Linked DNA regions of Homo sapiens. The protein of the gene in region 2 interacts with the protein of the main gene of each other region in a pairwise test. Each region holds a gene or a part of one and is shown on either strand. Other genes may lie near its edges. The genes, in order: RNF20 and DIS3L.

What was found.
Region 1: the proteins of DIS3L (region 2) and RNF20 interact in a two-hybrid assay, tested with the Homo sapiens proteins (one large-scale study listed by BioGRID).

The regions. Positions count from the first base shown.
Region 1 is NC_000009.12:101,540,032-101,544,059, reverse strand, and holds part of RNF20 (E3 ubiquitin-protein ligase BRE1A), read right to left. Parts: intron 3,858-4,028; coding exon 3,690-3,857; intron 3,571-3,689; coding exon 3,423-3,570; intron 3,268-3,422; coding exon 3,085-3,267; intron 1-3,084. UniProt on the Homo sapiens protein: Component of the RNF20/40 E3 ubiquitin-protein ligase complex that mediates monoubiquitination of 'Lys-120' of histone H2B (H2BK120ub1).
Region 2 is NC_000015.10:66,292,218-66,296,367, forward strand, and holds the start of DIS3L (DIS3-like exonuclease 1), read left to right. Parts: upstream 1-1,350; 5' UTR 1,351-1,379; coding exon 1,380-1,518; intron 1,519-1,597; exon of another isoform or gene 1,598-1,869; coding exon of another isoform or gene 1,870-1,957; exon of another isoform or gene 1,958-2,231; intron 2,232-2,770; coding exon 2,771-2,924; intron 2,925-4,150. UniProt on the Homo sapiens protein: Catalytic component of the RNA exosome complex which has 3'->5' exoribonuclease activity and participates in a multitude of cellular RNA processing and degradation events.

The DNA.
Region 1 (4,028 bases), on a different chromosome or scaffold from region 2:
ACCCATCAAAGAGAGTTATCAGGAAGAAAAATATGCTTTCTCATATCACCTCTTGGCATTACTCTTAGTATCAATACAGAACAGGTTGGTCATATGGTGGTTTTCATGGTTTTCAAGCTAGGCTTGCCCATCAGAATCACTTGTGGAACTTTTAAAATAGACATTTCCCTAGGACCTATCTCATACCTACTTAATAAGAACCTCCATGGGCAAAGCCAAAAATAAGAATATGCTCAGAAAACTCCCAAGGTTATTCTGATTCATAACCTGAGTTAAGAAGTAGAGACTGAATTTTAGTCCTCTCAATATCCTAAGCACTGAGGACAGGGCTAGAATACAATAAAATTCAATAAATGTTTAGTGAATTTATAAACAAGCCCATAAATGCAATTCTTTTGAATCAAAGACCAAACAAACAGACAGTACTGCCCTGGCAGGTTAGACAGTGCCGCCCTGGCAGGGTTAGACAGTGCCGCTCTGGCAGGTTAGACAGTGCCGCCCTGGCAGGTTAGACAGTTCCGCTCTGGCAGGGTTGGACAGTACTGCAGTGGCAGGGTTAGACAGTGCCACCCTGGCAGGGTTAGACAGTGCTGCCTTGGCAGGTTAGACAGTGCCGCCCTGGCAGAGTTAGACAGTGCCGCTCTGGCAGGTTAGACAGTGCCGCTCTGGCAGGTTAGACAGTGCCGCCCTGGCAGGGTTAGACAGTGCCGCCCTGGAAGGGTTAGACAGTGCCGCCCTGGAAGGGTTAGACAGTGCCGCCCTGGCACGGTTAGACAGTACTGCCGTGGCAGGTTAGACAGTGCCGCTCTGGCAGGGTTAGATGAATTTATAGACCTTACTCTATAAGGCCTATACTTGCTCTAGAAGGCCTTACCTTACTCTAGAAGGCCTATCATATCATAGGGGATTTTGTAAAACACAACACAACTCCAAACCTCCAAATAATGAATTACCCTAAATATAAAAGACTGTATAGTGTTATTGAGGAATGGCGTGGTAGAAATTCCACAGGGAATGGGGAAGTAGAAACTACTGTATTGATGATGTCCTAGGAATTTGAGGAATGTCAATTTTCAGTCTAAGTCAGGGGGATGAACTTTCAAACAAGTTACAACTGATGCTATAATTCATACTTTATACATCTTTATCTCTTAGAAAGTTCAGCTTACCAATGGCAATTGCCTTTTGTGTTACAAATAATGGCATGGCTATTTGTAATGTTTCTACTTTTTAACTTAAACCCGACCTTAAAATGCATGCCATTAAATAGTAATTTTAAAGTCGTTTGATATACTACTCATTTTATTCCCTTTTTAAATAAAACAATTGTTTCACTTGATATTCATTTATGAAATCAAGTTTAACATAGTCTATGCACATGGCATATTAATTACCATATTACTAAAATTTAACAATACCTTCTAACTATTCAATTAGAGCCCAAGGAGAAAGAAGCATATGTGCACACACAAAGCACCATTATTTTATATTAGGTGACAGGGAGGTTCACATCCATTCATTCCCCATTGACTAAACATCTGCTAGATGCCAGATGCAGTGCTAGAAACTAGAGAAACAAAGAAGAGTGAGCCAAACTACTGAACCAAGACACAGTTTAGCTGGGGACATGCAAGTAGATGTAAGATATTAATACAAAAGTACAAAAGTCTGAGAGGACATAAAACACATTGTTTAGAATGGTTATCTTTTGAGAAATGAGAATGGGGAAACTTTTGTAGTCTACTTATTTGTATTTCTGACTTGTATATTTTTAAACAAGTATCTGTTTTCCTTATAATAAAATACAGAAATGCATAATCTAATGGAAAAGCAAAAGAAACCCGTGACCAAATTTTCACAGGCCTTCTACAAGCTGCTTAATTCTGTTGACAACTTAGCCCAATTACCCTTAAAAGCAAAATTACAGAATAATACAATTCTTATATGCTCATCCAATGGTTCAACCTCCATTACATTCAACTTATTTCCTTCAGAAATGAAAGGTTAAACATCTTAATGATAAGCAGGGAAATTAAGATATTACAACTAGACCATGATTATTATTGAAAACATGAAATCAAGGCATTTTTTTTGCATTTGAGCAAGGTATTTATGCCACAAATGACTAAAGATGTAACCTAGCTACACAAATACTTTACTGTACAAATTTAAATTTTTGCATTAACTCTGAGTAACACAATTATCCCAAATAATTATTTTATTTCAAATACTCTTTCATCCATAGAATATTTTCTAATAATCCTTTTAACCATACAGATCATCTGTCAACTCTAAAACCTGCACCAACTCTTTTTAAAAACATTAGCGATAATGAAAAATAAGTTAAGTAAAAATTAACTTTTTCAAGTCAAAATTCTGTAACTAATAATTAAATAATATAGTTGTTATTTAAAATAAAGTATTATCACTATAAATCAATAGCCTACATACACGATAAACAGATCCAGATATTAGAGCTGTTTATTAAATAATAAAGTTAATTCTGCTATTTACAAAACTGTCATTAATAGAGTATATCAGTATAGAGCTGATAAACTCTTTCCTCAGCTTATTAAAGGACTGTCATGTGGCTCAAAATGAGAAGCACTGATAAAAGATTAATATGCCATAATGAAGACATTACCAGTAACACTGAAGGTTAGAATTTCTAAAAATTTAATTAAAATATATAGTCCAGGCACAGTGGCTCATGCCTGTAATCCTAACACTTTGGGAGGCCAGAAGAGAGGATCTCTTGAGGCCAAGTTTGAGACCAGCCTGGGCAACATAGCAAGACTTCCTCTCTACAAAAAGGTTAAAATATTAGCCAGGTGTGGTAGTACGTGCCTATAGTCCTAGCTATTCGGAAGCTGAGGCAGAAAGATTGCTTGAGTTCGAGGATTCAATGGGCTATGATGGTGCCACTGTGTTCCAGCCTGGGTGACACAGTGAAACCTTATCTCTTAAAAAGTAAATAATAAATAAATAAAAATAAATATGTAAGCTTGCAAACTACAAATTAGCATGCAAAAATGAATTCTTATTCCTCCTCCACTACTCCCGGCCTCCAGGGTCTTGCCTCACCTCCACTGTTTAGCTTCCGGGATAAGAGCTCCACTTTTTCTTGCAATTTATCATAAACAGTCACAATCTGGGACACGGCTCGGCGGGAAGACTCCACACGTTCCTGCAGCTGAGACTCCATCTCTTCACTGGAACTGCTGGCCAAAGTAGCAAGGAAAGAGAAAGCTGGCTCTTGCCCTTCCCCTGAGGACACAGGGGGAAAAAAAGAAGCCCCCCAAAATTATAAACTGGAAATAACAAAATCCATTTTTTTTCCCTCAAATGGAAAGCCTCAAAGCAGAGCTCTACTTTAAAAACCCAGATAGCATGCAGTGATAGAATCCATCACGAACACTTGCCTCTCTCTCGGTCATCTTTACGCTCCTGATTGCTATCAGAGTCTGGTTCTGGTTCAGGCACAACAAGGGCTTTTCGTTCTGTGAGTAGGTCTCCCAAGCCCTGCTCCAGATCATAACGTTTAAGGATGATACGGATGTTTTCATCAAACTGGAGAAGGGTAGGTACAATTATGAAGAAACAAAGGACACAACTTTGGAAATGAAGAGAACAGTAAGGAGAACTAAATTGGTCAAATAAAAATCTGAACAAATAAACAAGTTAGCTACCTGACTCCAGTATCGGTTGACAATCAATAGTGAGGCATCATCAGTGGCCTGTCGTCGTTCCAGTTTTTCAATGTGCTCACGAAGTTCATCTTCAATGGCCTGCCGCTGATCCAACATTTCTGCCAGCTTGCGATTTTTGGTTTGCAGTGTTCTAATGTCTAGTTCCTCCTGCCCAGTAAACCAATCGTATTAGTCTCCACAAAGAAATAAGAAAAATGAGCCGTTAAACTCAACAAGGTCACAATTATTCATTAGTTATTTTCTATGAATAAAGCTATTGACTTTTAAAAAATCTTACAAGTAATTAAGAAGTAGAAGCAGAAGAGATAAACAACAGGT
Region 2 (4,150 bases):
ACTTAATAACTGGGTAACCTTGGCCACTTAACTTCCCTAACCCTGTTTTATAGTCTATAAGATAGGAATGATAATGCCCCACTCCTTTGACTTGTTGTGGAAATTAAATGGGACACGTATACAAAGCTGCTAGTGCAGCTCAAAAGTCTTAGTTGAGTGCTTGGAAGAAGAGTGGATTCTATCCCATCAAGGGTGTGTGATCTCAGAAGAGACTGTGTGCATCTCTTTATCAAGAGCTACAGGCTGGGCGTGGTGGCTTACGCCTGTAATCCCAGCACTTTGGGAGGCTGAGGTGGGAGAATCACTTGAGCCCAGGAGTTTGAGACCAGCCTGGGTAACATAGTGAGACACTCCCATCTCTACAAAAAAAAAGAAAAGAAAAGAAAAGAAAAAAACGCTAGGCGTGGTGGAGAAGATCGTTTGTGCCCAGAAGTTCGGGGGCTGCAGTGAGCCATGATCATGCACTATACTCCAGCATGAGTGACACAGCAAGACCCTGTCCAAAAAAAAAAAAAAAATTAATACAAACATGTACGTTTGTGATTGTGTCACAGTGGCAGTTTAAAGGAGAAATCCTTTGCCAGAGGCTGCAAAAGCTATAAAAGTTGGAGTGGAACAGTGCTTCAAGGGAAGAGATTGGTTTTCATTTTATCTGCATTGTTTGATTATATAAGTACATGATAACTTCAATAGGGATACCAAAACAAATAAATAAATTTTAAAAAGAACATGAAAGGCCAGGCGCAGCAGCTCACACCTATAATCCCAACACTTTGGGAGGCCGAAGCAGGTGGATCGCCTGAGACCAGCCGGGCCAACAGAGCAAGACCTGCCCCCCTCACCCTCCCATCTCTACAAAAAAAGAAAAAAACTTTAAAAAAAGTACATGTAATTTTAAATGAATATAACTTTTTAGAAATGTTCGGCTGGCAGGGTTGCCGGCTTATGTGCTGAGTCTTTTACCTCGTTTGGAGATAGCGAGAGCAACGAAGAGAAAACATTAATTACCCGGTATTAGTATTAATACGGCGGCTCCATTCCCACATGGACCTGGGGGGGACAAACAAAGTCTCCTAATCTTGGACAGCTGCGCCCAGCCCTTCTTCACCTGCCGTCCAGGTATCATCCTAGTCTTCCCTCCGTCTCTGGGGTAGGTCGTTTCCACCCCTCCGCCCTGGTCCAGGCCACTGAGGGAAGGGAAGAAACTAAGGCCGGGAGGGCCGGGCCCCAGCCTGGAGCGTGTAGCTCCGGGCCTCCCCCGGGCGCGGCAGTTACGGCGGTTCCGGAGCCGCGGCGCCTAGGGCCGAGGGGCGGGTCCGAGGCCGCGGCCTTGCCTCCGCCGCGCCCGCCACTCCGCGGCCGCCGGGAGACACGCCGCCATGCTGCAGAAGCGGGAGAAGGTGCTGCTGCTGAGGACCTTCCAGGGCCGCACGCTGCGGATCGTGCGCGAGCACTACCTGCGGCCCTGCGTGCCCTGCCACAGCCCGCTCTGCCCGCAGCCCGCCGCCTGCAGCCACGGTCAGGGCCGGGGCGGGGGCGGGGACGGGGCCGGCGGGAGCGGGCGGCCGCAGTGAGGGGCTGAGCGCGGCCGGGAGGCGGAGCGCCAGCGGCGGGGACACGGAGGCGTAGGCCCCGCGGCCTGCGCCCGCTCGCCGGCCTCACCCCCCGGCTCTCTGCCGGTGGGGACCCAGCGGCCCGGGTCCGCGGCTTCTGGGGCGCCCGGGACTCCCTTACTGCTCCGCCCTGTCCAATGGGAGGGCCCGACAGACCCGCACCCCATGCCGGAGGCCGGGTGGTTTGGCTCCTCAGAGGGGCCTGAGGGCGCGGAAGCCGAGGCCTCCTCCCGCCGCAACCTCGCGCCGTGGAGAAATGGGGAGGTCCCGAGCTGGGAGCCCCCGGGAGCTACAGGCCAGCTGCTGCCGCTGCGAAGCTGACATCGCCTGCTTTGCAGCCACAGGTTTCCTGACCTGCCCGCACTGTTGCCCCAGACTTTTCCCCCAGTGGAGAGCCACTTCACCGTAGATTTGTGAACTCTCTGGGCCCGCACTGGAGCGGAAGGTCACGGGGAAGTTGGACTGGGGACTCCTGGGCCCCAGTCCTTGGTTTCTAGGCCACAAGGGTGGCCGATAGAACGATGCACGTTACTGGCTCTCTTCCCCCATGGGAGGATGAGAATGGGCTGGGGGTCCTTGTCAGCGAATGTGTGGAATCCTCCAAACATTGTGATTAAGGTGAACATTTCAGTTAGAGCTTGGCTAACCAGCTCTCAGATGCAGGTCTGGTGGGAAACCTCACCTCTGCACGTTGCTTGCACGGAGCATTTTCTCTGTTCAATCTTTCTGGCCCTTGGAGGCTGCTGAGCACGTGCAGAAGCTTGACACAGAGCCAACTTTAAATTGCTGGGCATCATACACAAGTGGTATAAATGTGGGGGTGCTTCATTTGAATGTGTTTGTCAATGATGAGTTAACACTGAAATATTCAGGTTATGCTGAAAATGTGCTTGTTCGTTGTTAAATCAGCCATCCTCTCCGGCACCTCTGGCAACACCATAAACCACGTTGAGCTTGTATTTATCACAGCTTCCAAAAAAATGAGGGTGCTCAATATACCTGAACTTTGGGCCTCTACCAAAGTAGATTTGTCTTTTAAAAACTCCCACCATGGAGTTAAGACTGGAAGTTATTTTGCATGCCAGAGCACCGTGACATTTAAATAAACCAGGTTTGAAAACATTGTCTAATCTCTTACATTTTGAATTATGTTTCAGATGGGAAACTCTTGTCTAGTGATGTGACTCATTACGTGATCCCAGACTGGAAAGTTGTTCAAGATTATCTTGAGATCCTTGAGTTTCCTGAGTTGAAGGGAATTATTTTCATGCAGACAGCTTGTCAAGCTGTGCAGCATCAAAGAGGCAGGAGGTATACGTTTTGCATTCTTTATTTCTATATGGCATAGGTTCCCCCCACCTTAGAAAAGGTCCCTTGTCGGAGGGGGATGGGAGGAATTCATTATTTTGTCAGAAGGGACTTTTAAAACTAATTTCGTATTCTCTTTGATAGTGAGGAATGCAGTAACATTATTTTATATTTCTGCTTCAACACCTGGCCAAGAGATCTGACTGTAGATTAGTAAACTGCAGTGTCCCCAGTATGTGGGTATTTAAGATTCTAGTGTGAATTGTCTTTTGGCTTGCATTTTTATAGTGGCAGGGTTATTGCTTATTTCTTGTTGATAATGTGTATTATTTAATCTTATTTATAGATACATTGTTTCAGAAGCATACGTTCTTTTCTTGGGGAAAAGAGTACTTTATTTTTAAATTTTAGACTCTTTTATTGGGGATGCAAATTGTACTTGTAATGATTTATTCAATGAAACCAGAAATAGCTTGTTTTATTTTTAGATTACTAGTGTAACTACCAGCCATAGTCATTGTATTTGCTAAACAAAGGCTTTCTAATTGAACAAGTCTAAAATTCTTGCCTAGTACTTAAATGAAGAATAGCTGTCTACCTTTTAAACAAATACTTTGAAAAACGATTTTGCTTCCTTTAATGTTGGGAAAGGTTTATGACTTGAACTTAAAACTGTATGGAAATAGCATATTAGAATTATACGTCCAACCTTTTAACACTCTAAGTTATTTAATAAGCACCAACTATGCATTTATTCTTTTTTAAAATGTTGTGGTTTCTTCAGGCCTTAGTGATAAAAGATGAAGTGTTTTTATTTGTATATGAAAATGGCAAAAAATTGTCCTCTTATTATATGCTCAGTTCAAAAAACATACATTAACCAGATTGTGTGCAGGTTTTTTCAGATAGAATATTTTTAAATGATCTTCAAGTTGATTTTGTTCAGACACCAAGATATAGATGTTTATACACATCCAAATTTAAATGCTGCTCCAGGTGTCATATTTCAGTTTCTGCTACTAAAATCAATTTGTTGTTATCATTCAGATTGCTAACACACTGCGAGCCTTTTCAACTTCTGTTTTCTGAAATATTTTTAATGTTAAGGATTGTTTTAGAAACCAGTTCCTGGGACATTCAAAGACAAAGAGTTGGAATTTAAACGTTTTTTTCTCCTGAACATTTCAAGAGTAGTTAACTTGATGAAAAACTATTGGTTTTCCACTGCC